Linked DNA regions of Homo sapiens: region 2 is linked to region 1. Evidence: fine-mapped expression QTL. A gene starts in region 1. The other region holds a variant in brackets. All regions are shown on one strand. Distances are between the middles of the regions. Region 1 holds the start of SIPA1 (signal-induced proliferation-associated 1). Region 2 overlaps RELA-DT (RELA divergent transcript).

Evidence for each region.
Region 2: its variant is fine-mapped to the expression of SIPA1 in whole blood (TOPMed, PIP above 0.99).

What each region holds. Positions count from the first base shown.
Region 1 is chr11:65,632,954-65,641,278 of GRCh38, forward strand. SIPA1 (signal-induced proliferation-associated 1) reads left to right here and starts at 5,148. Exons shown (of 16, transcript NM_006747.4): 1 at 5,148-5,229; 2 at 7,878-8,325. The coding sequence starts at 7,969. PCNX3 (pecanex 3) reads left to right here. Exons shown (of 35, transcript NM_032223.4): 28 at 1,173-1,403; 29 at 1,585-1,688; 30 at 2,020-2,167; 31 at 2,265-2,495; 32 at 2,576-2,850; 33 at 3,221-3,354; 34 at 3,438-3,736; 35 at 3,813-4,486. The coding sequence ends at 4,025. MIR4690 (microRNA 4690) reads left to right here and starts at 3,357; the gene lies at 3,357-3,416. RefSeq lists enhancers at 3,969-4,759, 5,711-5,780 and a silencer at 4,991-5,360.
Region 2 is chr11:65,665,565-65,673,889 of GRCh38, forward strand. It overlaps RELA-DT (RELA divergent transcript), which reads left to right. Exons shown (of 4, transcript NR_183625.1): 3 at 567-653; 4 at 5,859-6,154. Among named protein-coding and RNA genes, the nearest start is that of RELA-DT, 6.7 kb to the left of the region's middle. The variant C/T (reference allele first, on the strand shown) is at 4,490.

The DNA of each region.
Region 1 (8,325 bases):
AGGCTGGTCTTGAACTCCTGGGTTCAAGCGATCCTCCCACCTCCACCTCCCGAAGTTCTGGGATTACAGGTGTGAGCCACCCTGTCTGGCTGAAGCTTTTCTTTTCTGGGTCTTTTTAGCAGCTCTGGTGGTGCCTGGATTGTAGAGGCGAGCTATGGGCAAGAAAGTCAGTCTGGAGCGGGTCTGCCCTGGCAAAGGGCCTGCCCCATTAGCTCCATCTTAGGGTGGCACATGGAATCCCCATCACCTCACTGGCTGCCCTGCCGGCCTTAACCCGCCCGTGCATCCTGGCCATGCCAGCTACCTGTCTTCCAAAGCTCCTGTACTTTTGCCCAACAGGGCCTTTTAACAAGAGGTCCAGGAGCCCCCAGCTTTGGGTACCACATGTGCCCGTGGCTTTTTTCTGAGGCGAGGCCTGATGGCTGTCATGCTTCAGCTGCCTAAAGGGACCTGTGACCCAGGCACTCTGAGGCAGGCCCACTACTTCAGCCTGCCCTTCCGGCCCCGAGATCTGGATCCCACAATGTCATGATGGGGAAGGTCCGGGGTTCAGGCGGCAGTTCAGTCTGTTCTGCCCCACTCGCTCCCCGCCCCCTGCCCATGTGACATCTGGATGCTCCCGCGCTCGGGGTTATGTTTGTGCAGGAACACCAGCTCCTGCTGCTACCTGGCCCACGTGCTGCACAGGCACTGAAGGTTCACCTGAGGGCCACACCATAGTGTCGGGGCCAGCCAGAGGCGGGTGGGGGACAGGGTTCAGGGCAGGTGGGGCCAGCTCCACCTTGATGACTTGGAAGCTGAGGTGGTAAATGTTGAGTGTGATGATCTTGTTCTCGTTGGGGGCTGCCATTTGTTTGAGCCTCAATTTCTCATACAAACGGGGCATATTCTAGGGCAGAGGCAGGCAGATGCTGCTTGTGAGTGCTAGCCCCAGCACAGGACTTCCTGCTCTGTAAGTGGGTGCTTCCTGGCGGCTTTGTCACTCCTCCCTGGTCTAGGGGAAGGAGCCAACTTGCTTGGTTGCTCTTGAGAGCTGAGATGGCTCTAGGAGCGGGGCATCCCAGAAAGCGGACTTCAGCTCAGTCTTGGGGAGGAGCCTCTGAACCTCCATGCTTTCTCCTCCAGTGGCCAGGGCCGGGACCCCGGCCTGACGCCTGCCCCTCCTCTCCCAGAGCATCATCTACTACGTGAGCCGCTCACCAAAGCTGGAGGTGTGGCTCAGCCATGAGGGCATCACGGCAGCCCTGAGGCCTGTGCGGGTGCCCGGCTATGCCGACTCGGATCCCACCTTCTCGCTGAGTGTGGATGAGGACTATGACCTCCGCCTGTCTGGCCTCTCGCTGCCCTCCTTTTGTGCTGTGCACCTCGAGTGGATCCAGTACTGCGCCTCCCGGCGCAGCCAGGTCAGGCTCCACTACCTGAGGCTGCCACCTGGGGCTGTGGGACCTGGGCTTCCCTGCTCCCCTTCTCCCCATTTGGTTTCCTCTCACTCTGAGCCTCCCTTAGCCTGAGCCCCAGCCCCCACTCCAAGGTCCCTGTCCCAGGTCTGAGCTGGGCTCTGGGATGGGGGTCCTTATGCCACAGCCCGTGGACCAGGATTGGAACTCCCCGCTGGTCACGCTGTGTTTTGGCCTGTGTGTGCTGGGCCGCCGGGCCCTGGGGACAGCCTCTCACAGCATGTCTGCAAGGTGAGTGCTCGGGTGTCCCGCGGGGCCTACTGCCGTCCCCACCCCACCTCTTCCACGAAGAGCACTGTGGTCTCTGGCCACAGTGGCCACAGAAACTGCAGTGGCCCTTCCTGTTGGGGTACCTCTTCTCCCACGGGCAGGGCACTTCCTGGTCATGACCTTGCCTGCTCCTCAGTGCTCTGTGAGAGACATGGGCAGAGATTGGCCTCTTTGTCAAGATGGGGAAACTGAGGCTCAGCGTGAGGAAAGGCCTCTGCTTGGATCACTCTGAAGCCTTACCCCTGGGTCCTCGACACCCCTCTCTCCCCTCCCTGTTTTTCCTCCCACTTAGCCTGGAGCCCTTCCTCTACGGCCTGCACGCCCTGTTCAAGGGGGATTTTCGCATCACCTCCCCACGTGACGAGTGGGTCTTTGCCGACATGGACCTGCTTCACCGCGTTGTGGCGCCTGGGGTTCGCATGGCCCTCAAGCTTCACCAGGTTGGGGAGGGGTGTGCCCAGCAGCATGGGCAGGTGGGGGATGAAGCCTCTCTCCAGGGCAGGGGCCACTGACCCCTGTTCCCGTCTTCTCTACCAGGACCACTTCACGTCCCCAGATGAATATGAGGAGCCAGCAGCCCTATACGATGCCATTGCGGCCAACGAGGAGCGGCTGGTCATCTCACATGAGGGTGACCCAGCATGGCGCAGCGCCATCCTCAGCAACACGCCCTCCCTGCTGGCGCTGCGCCATGTCCTGGATGATGCCTCCGACGAGTACAAGATCATCATGCTCAACCGGCGCCACCTCAGCTTCCGAGTCATCAAGGTTGGGCCGGCCCCACCTGCCCTAAGCCCTGCCCCAAACCCCCTTGGGCCGGCCCCCTGACCCTGGCGTGTGGCTCTCAGGTGAACCGGGAGTGCGTGCGCGGCCTGTGGGCCGGGCAGCAGCAGGAGCTGGTGTTCCTGCGCAACCGCAACCCCGAGCGTGGCAGCATCCAGAACGCCAAGCAGGCGCTTCGCAACATGATCAACTCCTCCTGTGACCAGCCGCTGGGCTACCCCATCTACGTGTCGCCTCTCACCACCTCGCTGGCTGGCAGCCACCCCCAGCTACGGGCACTGTGGGGTGGCCCCATCAGCCTGGGTGCCATTGCCCACTGGCTCCTGCGCACCTGGGAGAGGTGAGGCCTCGGGAAGGGGTGACGTGTGGCGCGGGAGGAAGCTGAGGTGCAGTACGTCCCTCCTGGGTCTCAGAGGGAGGACGTGCTGGAGCCAGGGCTTGAATCCCGAGAGATGACCCCCTCCCAGAGCTGACCTGCCCCTCCTAGATGTCACCTTACCCCCAGAGCTGACAGTGGCCTTTAGTCATCAAGCACTGTTGACAACGCACCCTCAAAAGACTCTGCAAAGTAGGTGGCAGCTTCTTAGAGGGGAGGATCCTGGGGCTCAGAGGTGTTAGATGACTTGTCCTGGGGCTGAGGACTCATGCTTGTGAGGCCTCTGGCCTCAGCCGTGTCCCTCCTGATCCCTTTTCTACCTCTCCACCCCCAGGCTTCACAAGGGCTGTGGCGCCGGCTGCAATAGTGGCGGGAACGTGGATGATTCAGACTGTAGTGGGGGCGGTGGCCTGACCTCCCTCAGCAATAACCCCCCCGTGGCACACCCCACACCTGAGAACACGGCAGGTGAGCAGGCGAGGCTGGGCTGAACCCGTGGGTGAGGAGTGCAGCCCAGCTGAGGCCTCTGCTGTCTTATCTGTCTCCTACAGGCAATGGTGACCAACCCCTCCCACCAGGCCCTGGCTGGGGGCCGCGGTCCTCCCTGAGTGGCTCTGGTGATGGGCGGCCCCCACCTCTGCTGCAGTGGCCTCCCCCTCGGCTCCCTGGACCACCCCCTGCATCGCCTATCCCCACAGAGGGTCCCCGGACCTCACGGCCCCCTGGCCCGGGTCTCCTCAGTTCTGAGGGCCCCAGTGGAAAGTGGAGCCTGGGGGGCCGGAAGGGGCTGGGAGGATCTGACGGGGAGCCAGCCTCAGGGAGCCCCAAAGGAGGTACCCCCAAATCTCAGGTAAGGCACCTGTGGGAGGGTTGGGTCCCAGAAGGCTAAGGCCTGCTCACCCGCCAACCTCTCCCCCCTCCCCCAGGCGCCTCTAGACCTCAGCCTCAGCCTCAGCCTCAGCCTCAGCCCCGATGTCAGCACTGAGGCCTCACCCCCCAGAGCTTCCCAGGACATTCCTTGCTTGGACAGCAGTGCCCCTGAGAGTGGCACACCTATGGGTGCCCTGGGCGACTGGCCTGCCCCTATTGAGGAGCGTGAGAGCCCGGCAGCCCAGCCCCTGCTGGAACACCAGTACTGAGCTACCTGGCGCCCACTGGACCACCTCCTAGGATTCAGTAACGGACCTGCTCTGCTGCCTCTCTGCTGGACCACAGAACTGAGTGGCTTTGGCCTACATGTCTGAACCCTGACCTTTGGCTGCCTTGGCCAGAGTACCAAAACTGAGTGACCCAGACCTCTGACCTTGACCCCTGATCTCTCTCATCCCCAGTCCAGGGCCTGGGCTCCCCAGATGGAGGCAGTCAGCCTCCCAGCCAGGCCCTAAGAGCCAAACCATGGGCTGGTCCCACTTGGAGCCTGTGGCCAGGACCACCTCAGCCCCTGGGCCTGCACTGCCTGCAGGTGTGGCCCCCTTGGCCTGGACCTGGGGCCTGAATTGTGGGAAGGGTGGTTTCTTTCTTTCCTTTTTTTTCTTTTCTTTTTTTTTTTTTTTTTTGTGCTTCGGAGACATCAGAATTAATAACACTATTTTTGATTTTGGTTGGCAGTTTCTTTTTCTACCTGGGAATGGGTACATGATAGTACAGGCGGCTAAGTTGGGATGGACAAGCACGCAGAGGGGTGAAGGATGTGGGGCTGAAGTCTAGTAGAGATCAAGGGCAGACCAAGGTGGGGTTCAGGTAGAACCGGGTCCTCTTCACCGCATGGCTGCTCCCTTTTCAAGCCTTTATCTGAAGGGTATTGTCTGCCATTTCCCACCATATGGTCAGACTTCCAGGTCTGGTGGCTCCTACATTTATCAGGCTTGTTCTTGGCCAAAGCCTTTCTCTGCACCTCAGCTGCTCCAGGGCGTAAAGAGATGACACCTATCTAAGGTGTTTTTAGAATAAATGAGAGCGCGCTAGTGGAATGGTTGCCCAGGGCCCAGTGCTTAGCAAGTGCTCCATAAAATAGTGGCAGACTCTTGAGCACCTGCTGGCCGGGAGCTGGACGCTAGGTGGCCTCCGCTAGCCCTCCCGGTTGGTCTGGAAGGCAGGCACAAGTTTCTCAGGAGAGGAAATGGCCTTAGAATGAGCACTGCTCGGTGCTGACCTCCGCCAGGCCTGGAATCCCCGCTGCTGCGCTTCCCGCCGCAGACAGCTCCCGGCCGGCCCCGCCTCCCGGCATGGCCCCGCCTCCCAGCATGGCCCCGCCCCCAGGCGGAGCCGGCGCCGGGAGCGGTAGCGGGAGAGCGGCAGCGGGACCCCAGCGCGGGCGGCGGCGGCTGGGCGGGAGCCCCAGAGGTACTGGCGGGAGCAGGGGACGGGAGGCACTACTGTCGGGCCCGACAGGGGAGAGGTGGCCTAGCCGTGGGCCCGGGTGATGTGTATGGGAGTGGGGTCCTCGCCACGTTCGCCGCCAGCACCCTCCCAACTTCCCTCCGGGCTCCAGCTCAGTCCCGAGTCAATATGTCCAGCCCCCTGTCTCTGACCAGCCGTTCCTACTCTCTCTGTGTGACGGCTTAGCCTGGCCAGCCAGCCGGTGAGTGGAAGCGGCGGCTCCTGACTCCTGGTGGCGGCACTGTGACCCCCTCCCCCTCAACACTGCAAGTGTGTGCGGGGCTCCCCCTTATTCTGAGGCTCCTCTTCTTCTTAGGCGGCCTCCACCCCAGTCCCTGGCCTGGCCTGGGAGGAAACATCTGTCGCGCCCCCTGGCAGCCGAAATGGGGTCATGACCTCCAGATGTGCTGGGAAGTGGCCAGCTCCTCCTCCTGGGGCAGCCAGGCCTTCCGGATCTGTGGGGGCGGGGCCGGCCCTTTCCCCCCACCCCTAGTGACACAGGCCCGGAGGAATGTCCTAGCCTCAATGGACCCTGTGTGAAGCTTCAGGGTGGGGGGCAGAGCCCGAGAACACCCCTCAAGGCAGCGCCAGAGCCTGGCACTGGGCCACAGCAAGAGGCAGCGCACAGGCTGGGTGCACACATGCACAGATCTCACTTCCAAGCGTGCAGAGCTCAGCCCACAAGGAGCGGGGCTTGCACAGACCCCCTCCCTCATGCCCTCCTACTCCTTCACACACTATAGCCCAGGCCCGAGCGCTGAATGTGCCCAGAGCTTGGCTCATGGAGCCAGGGGCTACACCCGTCACACACACACATAGCTAGCGACACTCACCTCATTCTTCTCAGTCTCTCAGCAGCCTTGGGAGGGGACAGAAATAATTAAACCCAATTTTTTTCTTTGTTTTTTTGGAGACAGTCTCACTCTGTCCCGCAGGCTGGAGTTCAGTGGCGCGATCTCGGCTCACTGCAACCTCTGCCTCCCAGGTTTAAGCGATTCTCCTGCCTCAGCCTCCTGAGTGGCTGGGACTACAGGTGCGCACCACCACACCCGGCTAATTTTTATGTTTTTAGTAGAGACAGGGTTTCACCATGTTAGCTAGGCTGGTCTTGAACTCCTGACCTCAGGTGATCCCCCCGCCTTGGCCTCCCAAAGTGCTGGGATTACAGGCCACAGCCACCGCACCCGGCCAGTTAACCCCATTTTAGAGATGAGAAAACAGAGGCTCAAGGTCAGCATGGGAGTTTATTCAGGAGAAATCAAGGTAGAAGCACCTGGGCTGGGGAGCCGACTCTTGCTTGGTTCTGGAGGCCCCAGACGAAGGGTGTGTGGAGCCCCTCCTCCACCCCCCTCCGGCCCAGCCCCGCATGATGTTGCTGGATGCTGCATGAAGACCCACCATTAGATGCCTGTACCCCCAGTGGAGGTTCCCCAGCTCCCTGTCCTCACTGCCTACTCCATCCAGGGCTTGCCTGGGTGTGGCTTCCCTCAAGTTCTCACACCACCATTTGCACCTGCCTCTGGCGTCACGTTTCCGCACTTAGCAGGTCCCTGGGGCTTTGGGTGTCTCAATCTTGCATCCTGTGAGACCTTGAACCTCAGCCCAACACCCACCCCCCAAAACCTACGCACACAGACAGCAGTGGGCAGGTGCAGCCCTGCTTAGGGCCTGGAGATGGGCAGACCCAGGCTCACATCCTAGCTCTGACACGGAATTGCTTCAGGCAAGAGCATCTCCTCTGGACCTCATCTGACCATCTGTCACATGGGGTTCAGACCTCCCTGTCTGCATCAGTGAGACCAGGTAGGCAGAGGTCCCTATGGGTCCCTGTCATTGTGACTCCTCTTGCCCCCAAGCCTGGGCACAGTAGCCTGCAAGAAGGTGAGTTGGCCTGTCCTTCAGGGCAGGGTGACTGGGGTCCCATGACAGCTGCTGTGACCCCAGCACCTTCCTCAGGATGTGGGGGCCTGGCAGAGGGCTGGGCCCACAGTTGGGGCTACTTCCTGTGCTGAAGGAAGTCCTCTTGCCATTCCTGCTGCCCTGCCGCTGCCTCCCTGGGAACCCATGTGTCCTTGTGGTATTGAGGCCTTGAGGTCCAGGGCACTGAGATCAGACCTCTCTGGGTGATCAGCTCTCCAGGGACCCTGAAGGAAGTGGGAGGGGCAAGGAGGAAGGTCTCTGGGGACAGGACGTCCTCCCTTTGTTAAGTGGGCAGGACCCAGACACCAGTGGCCCCTGGGTTTCCCGTCCCAGCCAATACAAGTCATCTGTCCGGTTGGGCTAGGTCCTGGTGGGACCCTTACTCTGGGCCCAGGCCAAAGCTAAGGTGTGTGGGTGGCGACTGGGGGACCCTGGCAGTCCCAGGGCTGCCCAGGCTCCAGGACCCTCAGGACCAAGACCCAACAGCCCAGCCTCTAGCCTTGCCCAGCTAAGCTGGGGAGGGGGCTGGAAACTTTAGCCCTAGGCAGACAAGGAAGTGGCCTGGAAAGCGGAAGCAGCTTTGATGGTCTCGGAGGGGGCCGGAAGCCAACACGGGTGGTGGAGGACCAGGCTGGGGGCCTGGGTTCCTGTTTTCTGCCCAGGCCCCTCTGAGCAGCCCCCTCCTCCTTCAGGGCAGGAACTGCTGCCACAACCTCAGGCTGGGCACCAAACACCCGTGCCCGCCAATGCGGCCCAGCCCCCGGAGAGTCAGGCCCACAGAGCATGCCCATGTGGGCCGGCGGTGTGGGGAGCCCTCGGCGGGGCATGGCCCCTGCGTCCACAGATGACCTCTTTGCCCGCAAGCTGCGCCAGCCAGCAAGGCCCCCGCTGACACCGCACACCTTCGAGCCGAGGCCAGTCCGGGGCCCACTCCTGCGCAGCGGCAGCGATGCAGGCGAGGCCAGGCCCCCCACGCCAGCCAGCCCCCGTGCCCGTGCCCACAGCCACGAAGAGGCCAGCCGACCTGCAGCCACTTCCACCCGGCTCTTCACTGACCCGCTGGCACTGCTGGGGCTGCCAGCAGAGGAACCAGAGCCTGCCTTCCCACCAGTGCTTGAGCCTCGATGGTTTGCCCACTAT
Region 2 (8,325 bases), 33 kb after region 1:
TAATTTTGTATTTTTTTTTTCTTTTGAGACAGAGTTTCGCTCTTGTTGTGTGCAATGGCACAATCTCGGCTCACAGCAACCTCTGCCTCCCAGGTTCAAGTGATTCTCCTGCCTCAGCCACCTGAGTAGCTGGGATTACAGGTGCCTGCCACCATGCCTGGCTAACTTTTTGTATTTTTAGTAGAGACGGGGTTTCACCATGTTGGCCAGGCTGGTCTCAAACTCCTGACCTTAGGTGATCCACCTGCCTCAGCCTCTGAAAATGTTGGGATTACAGGCATGAACCACTGCATCTGACTAATTTTGTACTTTTAGTAGAGACAGGGTTTCACCATGTTGGCCAGGGTGGTCTCTAACTCCTGACCTCAGGTGATCTGCCCGTCTCGGCCTCCTAAAGTGCTATTACAGGCGTGAGCTACCGTGCCCAGCCATGGGCATTTGGACTTCTAATTTTTTGCTGCCATAAGCTTTAGAGCACTGAGTAATATATAAAAACAGCAATCATGTAGTTTTTAAAACTTAGTCTGGGGTTAAAGAAGTATGTAAACAACTATGTTTTCTTAAAGATTTATAGGAGCATTGTGACTGGACCAAGGACAAAGAAGTTCCCAACCTCCTCAGACCCTCGCTGCTGCCCAGATGTCTGCCATGGGGTACTTCTTGACCACACCCTCCTTCTCTTCCCTGCCCTTAACATAGAAAGAGCCTAAGATTGTACTGACTTAAAATGGTACTTTAGAACGCTAGTACACCGTCCTCTCAGTCTTGCTGGCTTTCAGAATAAATCAGTAAACCTACTTTTTCTCCCACCAACGCCCCTATCAGTTGGGATCCTCTTACCTCGGCCTCCCAGGTAGCTGGGACTATAAGCACTCACCACCACACACAGCTAATTAAAAAGAAAACAATTTTTTGAGGCAGGGTCTCACTCTGTCGCCATGCTGGAATGCTGTGGCATGACTCGTTGCTCACTGCAGCCTCAAACTCCTGGGCTCAAGCAATCCTCCCACCTTAGCCTCCCAAGTAGCTAGGACTAACAGCGTGCACCACCACACTCAGCTAATTTCTTTTTTTTAATTTTTAGTAGACACAAGATCTTGCTATGTTGCCAAGGCTGGTCTCGAACCTCTGAGCTCAGGCGATCCTTCTGTCTCAGCCTCCCAAAGTGTTAGGATTACAGGCATGAACTACCAAACCCGGCTGAGTTTTTTAAAATCTTAATGAATGCATGGATTTAAATATATTAGCTGTGTTTTAATCAAGTATAGTTATTGAAATTCAAATTATTCGTCTTTGGTTAGGGAGAACTTCTTCAAGTTGGTTGTTCTTCAGTCCTTTTGACACAATTCCAATATATGAGTCTTGGTGGCTCATACCTGTAATCCCAGCACTTTGGAAGGCTGAATGGGGAAGACTGATTGAGGCCAGGAGTTTAAGACCAGCCTGGTCAACATGGCAAGATCCCTATGTCTATTAAAAAAATAATTTTAAAAAAGCAATTACAGTAGCCTGTGATAGCTTCTTTGCTGTTTGGTATGAAAAGATATTTCTTTTCTTTTTCCTTTTTTTTTTTTGAGATGGAGTTTCGCTCTTACTGCCCAGGCTGGAGTGCAATGGTGCAATCTCGGCTCACTGCAACCTCTGCCTCCCGGGTGCAAGCAATTCTCCTGCCTCAGCCTCCCAAGTAGCTGGGATTATGGGAGTGTGCCACCACGCCCAGCTAATTTTTGTATTTTTAGTAGAGATGGGGTTTCCATATTGGTCAGGTTGGTCTCGAACTCCTGACCTCAGGTGATCCACCTGCCTTGGCCTCCCACAGTGCTGGGATTACAGGCATGAGCCACAGCGCCTGGCCTGAAAAGATATTTCTAGACTCATCTAGTAAATTTTCTGCCCCAGATCTGGAATCAGACAGCTTTCCAAGGAGTCCTGATTTCTCTTAGTAGGAAATGATATTTAAAGACTACAGCTTGAGTACTTCGGATACTTATTGCTACTGAGTCAGTCATTGTAGATGTTTTCGGTGAATAGTTAGTACTTTTTTTTTTTTTTTTTTTTTTTGAGACAGAGTTTCACTCTTGTTGCCCAGGCTGGAGTGCAATGGCATGATCTTGGCTCACTGCAACCTCCGCCTCCCGGGTTCAAGTGATTCTCCTGCCTCAGCCTCCCGAGTTGCTGGGATTACAGGCATGCGCTACCACGCCCGGCTAATTTTGTATTGTTAGTAAAGACAGGGTTTCTCCATGTTGGTCAGGCTGGTCTCCAACTCCTGACCTCAAGTGACCTGCCCGCCTCGGCCTCCCAAAGTGTTGGAATTACAGGCGTGAGCCACCATGCCCAGCCAGTAATTTTTTAAAAAATGGGAGTCTTGCTCTGTCATCCAGGCTGGATTGCAGTGGTGGTGTGATCATAGCCCATTGCAGGCTCGAACTCCTAGGCTCAAGTGATTCTCCCTCCTCAGGTCCCCCAGTAGCTGGGACTACAGGCACACACCACCATGCTCAGCTAATTTTTTATTTTTTAGTAGAGAAGAGGTCTCACTATGTTGCCCAGGCTCATCTTGTACTCCTGGGCTCTAGCACTCCTCTTGCCTCAGCTTCCCAAAGTGTTGGAATTACAGGCATGAGCCATTGTGCCCAGCCTAGCTGGTAATTTTTTTTTTTGAGATGGAGTCTTGCTCATTCGCCAGGCTGGAGTGCAGTGGCGCGATCTCGGCTCACTGCAACCTCTGCCTCCCAGGTTCAAGCAATTCCCCTGCCTCAGCCTGCTGAGTAGCTGGGACTACAGGCACGCGCCACCACACCCTGCTAATTTTTTTGTATTTTAGTAGAGACGGGGTTTCACCATGTTGGCCAGGATGGTCTCGATCTCCTGTCCTGACCTTGTCATCTGCCTGCCTTGGCCTCCCAAAGTGCTGGAATTACAGGCGTGAGCTACCGCACCTGGCTGTAATTTTTTTTAAATACGAAATGCATCAGGAGTTCATACTAATGTTTCATATTCAAATTTAGAATTATAGGGTTTTTAAATTTTATTTATTTATTATTATTATTTTTTTTTGAGATGGAGTCTTGCTCTGTTGCCCAGGCTCACTGTAACCTCTGCCTTGTGGGTTCAAGCAGTTCTCTGCCTCAGCCTCCTGAGTAGCTGGAATTACAGGCACCTGCCACAATGCCTGGCTAATTTTTATATTTTTAGTAGAGACGGGGTTTCACCATCTTGGCCAGGCTGGTTTTACACTCCTGACCTCGTGATCCACGTGCCTCAGCCTCCCAAAGTGCAGGGATTACGGGTGTGAGCCACCGCGCCCAGCTAGAATTACAGGGTTTTAACTTAACCTTAGTCACTTTACATGTTTCTCCCATGTCAAAAATCTTGATTTTCTTTTGAGGGAATAGAAAAGTCCACTCTTAAATTAAGTCCATATGGAGTCTCAAGGGACCCAAATAACCAAAACAATCTTAAAAAAAAGAAACAAAGGTGGAGGACTCATACTTCCTGATTTCAAAACTTACTACAAAGCTACAGTAATCAAAACAGTGTGATTCTAGCATAAAGACAGACATATAGGCCGGGCGTGGTGGCTCACGTCTGTAATCCCAGCACTTTGGGAGGCTGAGGCAGGAGTTCAAGACCAGCCTAACTAACATGGAGAAACCCCGTCTCTACTAAAAATACAAAATTAGCCGGGCATGGTGGCCCATGCCTGAAATTACAGCTACTTGGGAGGCTGAGGCAGGAGAATCGCTTGAACCCGGGAGGTGGAGATTGCAGTGAGCCGAGATTGAGCCATTACACTCCAGCCTGAGCAACAAGAGTGAAACTCTGTCTCCAAAAAAAATAAAGACAGACATATGACCAATTGTACAGAATAGGGAGCCCATAAAAATAAAACCTTTCCATATACGGCTGAATGATTTTCAACAAGGGCGCCAAGACCATTCACTGGGGGAAAGGACAATCTTTTCAACAAATGGTTTTGGGAAAATTGGGTATCCACATGCAAAAGAATGAAGTTGACCCTTACCTAACACTATATACAAAAATTAACTCAAAATGGTTCAAATGGCTGGACCTGGTGACTCACATCAGTAATTCCCGCACTTTGGGAAGCCAAGGCGGGAAGATCACTTGAGCCCAGGAGTTTGAAACCAGCCTGGTCAACATAGTGAGATCCTATCTCTACAAAAGAAAAAAAAAAAAAAGAAAAAAATTAGCTGGGCATGGTGGTGCATGCCTGTAGTCCCAGCTACTCAGGAGGTTGAGACGGATTGCTTGAGCCCAGGAGTTCGAGTTCACAGCAGTGAGCCATGCCACTGCACTCCAGCCTAAGCGACAGAGTGTGACGCTGTCTCAAAAAAATAAAGAACTGGGGCCGGGCGCGGTGGCTCACGCCTGTAATCCCAGCACTTTGGGAGGCTGAGGCGGGCGGATCACGAGGTCAGGAGATCGAGACCATCCTGGCTAAAACGGTGAAACCCTGTCTCTA[C/T]TAAAAATACAAAAAAAAATTAGCCGGGCACGGTGGCAGGTGCCTGTAGTCCCAGCTAGTCAGGAGGCTGAGGCAGGAGAATGGCGTGAACCTGGGAGGTGGAGCTTGCAGTGAGCCGAGATCGCGCCACTGTACTCCAGCCTGGGCGACAAAGCGAGACTCTGTCTCAAAAAAAAAAATAAATAAAATAAAGAGCTAAAAAGGGACCAAATACCTAAATGTAGGACCTAAAACTATAAACTCAGAAAAAAACATAGTGCCCCATGTTTTTGATTGCTTATATGTTATTATTTACGTTTTTATTGTTTATATGTTATCATTTATGTTGTATAATATTCATGACATTGAATTTGGCAGTGATTTCTTGGATACAACATAAAAGCACAGACCACAAAAGAAAAAAATAAATTAGGCTTATAAAAATTAAAAACTTTTGTACATCAAATACAATATACTGAAGTAAAAAATCAACCCACAGAATGGTAGGAAATATTTCAAATTACATATCTGATAAGGATTAATACCTAGAACATATAAAGAACTAATAATAGGCCGGGCGCCGTGGCTCACGCCTGTAGTAATCCCAGCACTTTGGGAGGCCGAGGCGGGCGGATCACGAGATCAGGAGATCGAAACCATCCTGGCTAACACGGTGAAACCCCATCTCTACTAGAAATACAAAAAATTAGCCGGTCATGGTGGCGGGCACCTGTAGTCCCAGCTACTCGGGAGGCTGAGGCAGGAGAATGGTGTGAACCCGGGAGGCGGAGCTTGCAGTGAGCCGAGATCGCGCCACTGCACTCCAGCCTGGGCAACAGAACGAGACTCCATCTCAAAACAAAACAAAACAAAAAAACAACAAAAAAAAACACACAAAGAGATACCACTTCACACCCATTAGGATGGCTGTTATCAGAAAAATAAGGTAACAGCTGTTTGCTGAGAAATATGGAGATGTGGAGAACACGTGGAGAAATTGGCACACTTGTGAATTGCTGGTGGGAATGTAAAATGGTGCAGTCGCTCTGGAAAACAGTATGGCGGTTCCTCAAAAGAATTAAACCAGAATTAACACATGATCCAGAAATTTCATAGTACTCAAAACTACTGAAAGCAGGAACTCAAATTGATATCTGTACACCAGTGTTCATAGCGGCATTATTCACAATAGCCAAAAGGCGGAAACAACCCAAATGTCCATTGACGCATGACCAGTGTGATAGTTAATTTCATGTGTCAACTTGACCAGCCCAGGGAATACCCGGATAGCTGGTAGAAAATTATTTCTGGGTATGTCTGTGAGAGTGTTTCTGGAAGAGGTTAGTATTTGAATCAGACTGAGTAAAAGGATCCACCCTATCCAACATAGGTGGCCATCATCGAATCCACTGAGGGCGCAAATAGAACAAAAAGGTGAAGAAAAGGTGAATTCTCTCCTTTCTTGAGCTGGGACATCCAACTTCTCAGACATCAGAGCTCCTGGAGGCCTTCAGACTCCGAGACATTACACCATTGGCTCACCTGGTCCTCAGGTCTTTGGACTTGGAATGAATTACACCATTGGCTTTCCAGGTCTTCCAGCTTGCAGATGGCAGATTGTGGGACTTTTCAGCCTCCATAACTTTGTCATCCAATTCCCATAATAAATCGCCTCTTATATCTGTATCTGTTTGGTTCTGTTCTGGAGATCCCGGATTAATGCAAATGGATTAAAAAAATGCGGCCGGGCACGGTGGCTCATGCCTGTAATCCCAGCACTTTGGGAGGCCGAGGCAGGTGGATCACTTGAGGCCAGGAGTTCAAGACCAGCCTGGCCAACATGGTGAAACCCCACGAAACCCTGTCTCTACTAAAAAAAAAATACAAAATTAGCTGGGTGTGGTGGCGCACGCCTGTAATCCCAGCTACTTGGAGGGCTGAGGCAGGAGGATTGCGCGAACCCAGGAGACAGAGGTTGTAGTGAGCTGAGATCACACCACTGCACTCCAGCTTGGGTGACAGAGTGAGACTCCATCTCAAAAACAAAACAAAACAAAACCCCAAAATGTGGTATATACATGCAAGGGAATATTATTCAGCCTTAAGGAAGGGAATTCTGATACATGCTGTATTGAGGAGCCTTGAAGGCAACATGCTGAGTCAAAGAATCCAGACACAAAAGGACAAATGTTATATGATTCTACTTATGTGAGATACCTACAATAGTCAAATTCATAGAGAAAGGAAGTAGAATACCCATTACAAGAAGCTGGAGAGAAGGGGAAATGGTGAGTTAATGCTTAACAAATGCAGAGTTTATGTTGGGGATGATGAAAAGATTCTGGAGCAGGATGGTGGTGATTGATGGTAGCACACAGTGTGAATGTACTAAGTGCCATTCAGTGGCACACTTATAAATGGGTAACATGGTAGATTTTATGTTATATATATTTAACCACAATTTAAAAAATCTCAATTCTTTCTCTGTTTTTTTATTTAATTTTAGAAATGGGGTCTTGCTCTGTTGCCCAGGCTGATCTTGAACTCCTTGGCTCTGGGCTCAACCAGTCCTCCCACCTCAGCCTCCCAAAGTGCTGGGATTACAGATATGAGCTACTGCACCCAGCCTCAGTTCTCAGTGACACCAACCCATTACTCATTTGCTTTATCTCACACTGTATACAAAACAGTTTCAGAATAATGATACCAACTCTACCTCCATAATGATTTCTTTTTTCTTTTTTTATTTTTCATAAAACTTATGACTCAACATAATAAGATTTCTGAAAATATATTTTTGTAGTTCTTGTCCTTAGGTTATAGCCCACTAGGGATGATAGTCAGATAACTTTGTTTTGAATCTCTTTGAATAGTTAATCTCCATAAAGTTATACCAGCAAATTGATACATAGTTTTATTTTCCCTTTTTAGGAATTGCTTTTTAAAGTTTTATTTTTCTTCATAATGATGTGAAATATTATATCGTTCCAAAGTCAAATCTATATAACAAGATATATTAAAAGAAGTCTTGTTTCTATCCCTGTCCTCTCCAACCTGCTGTCTCCCTTCCCCTATAGGTAACTAATTTTTTTTTTTTGAGATGGGATCTTGCTCTGTTGCCCAGACTGGGGCAATAGTGCAATCATAGCTCACTGTAGCCCCAAACTTCTGGGCTCAAGGGATCCTCACCCTTCAGTCTTCAGAGGAGACTGAGGAGACTGAGGCCTGAGACTACAGGCACTCACTATAACACCCCACTAATTTTTTTATTTTTATTTTTATTTATTTATTTATTTATTTATTTATTTATTTATTTATTTGAGATGGAGTCTCGCTCTGTCACCCAGGCTGGAGTGCAGTGGCGTGATCTCAGCTCACTGCAAGCTCCGCCTCCCAGGTTCACGCCATTCTCCTGCCTCAGCCTCCTGAGTAGCTGGGACTACAGGTGCCCGCCACCATGCCTGGCTAATTTTTTATTTTTTATTTTTTTTTATTTTTAGTAGAGATGGGGTTTCACCGTGTTAGCCAAGATGGTCTCAATCTCCTGACCTTATGATCCACCCACCTCAGCCTCCCAAAGTGCTGGGATTACAGGCATGAGCCACCACGCCCAGCTAACACCCCACTAATCTTTTAAAAAAATTTTAGTAGAGATGAGGTCTCGCTTTGTTGCCGAGGCTGGTCTCAGACTCCTGGGCCCAAGTAATACTTCCACCTCGGCCTCCTCCCAAAGAGCTGAGATTACAGGTGTGAGCCACCACACTGAGACTGATAACCACTTTTTTCTTTTTTTTCCTTTTTCTTTTCTTTTTCTTTTTTTTTTTTTTTGAGACAGAGTCTCGCTCTGTCGTCCAGGC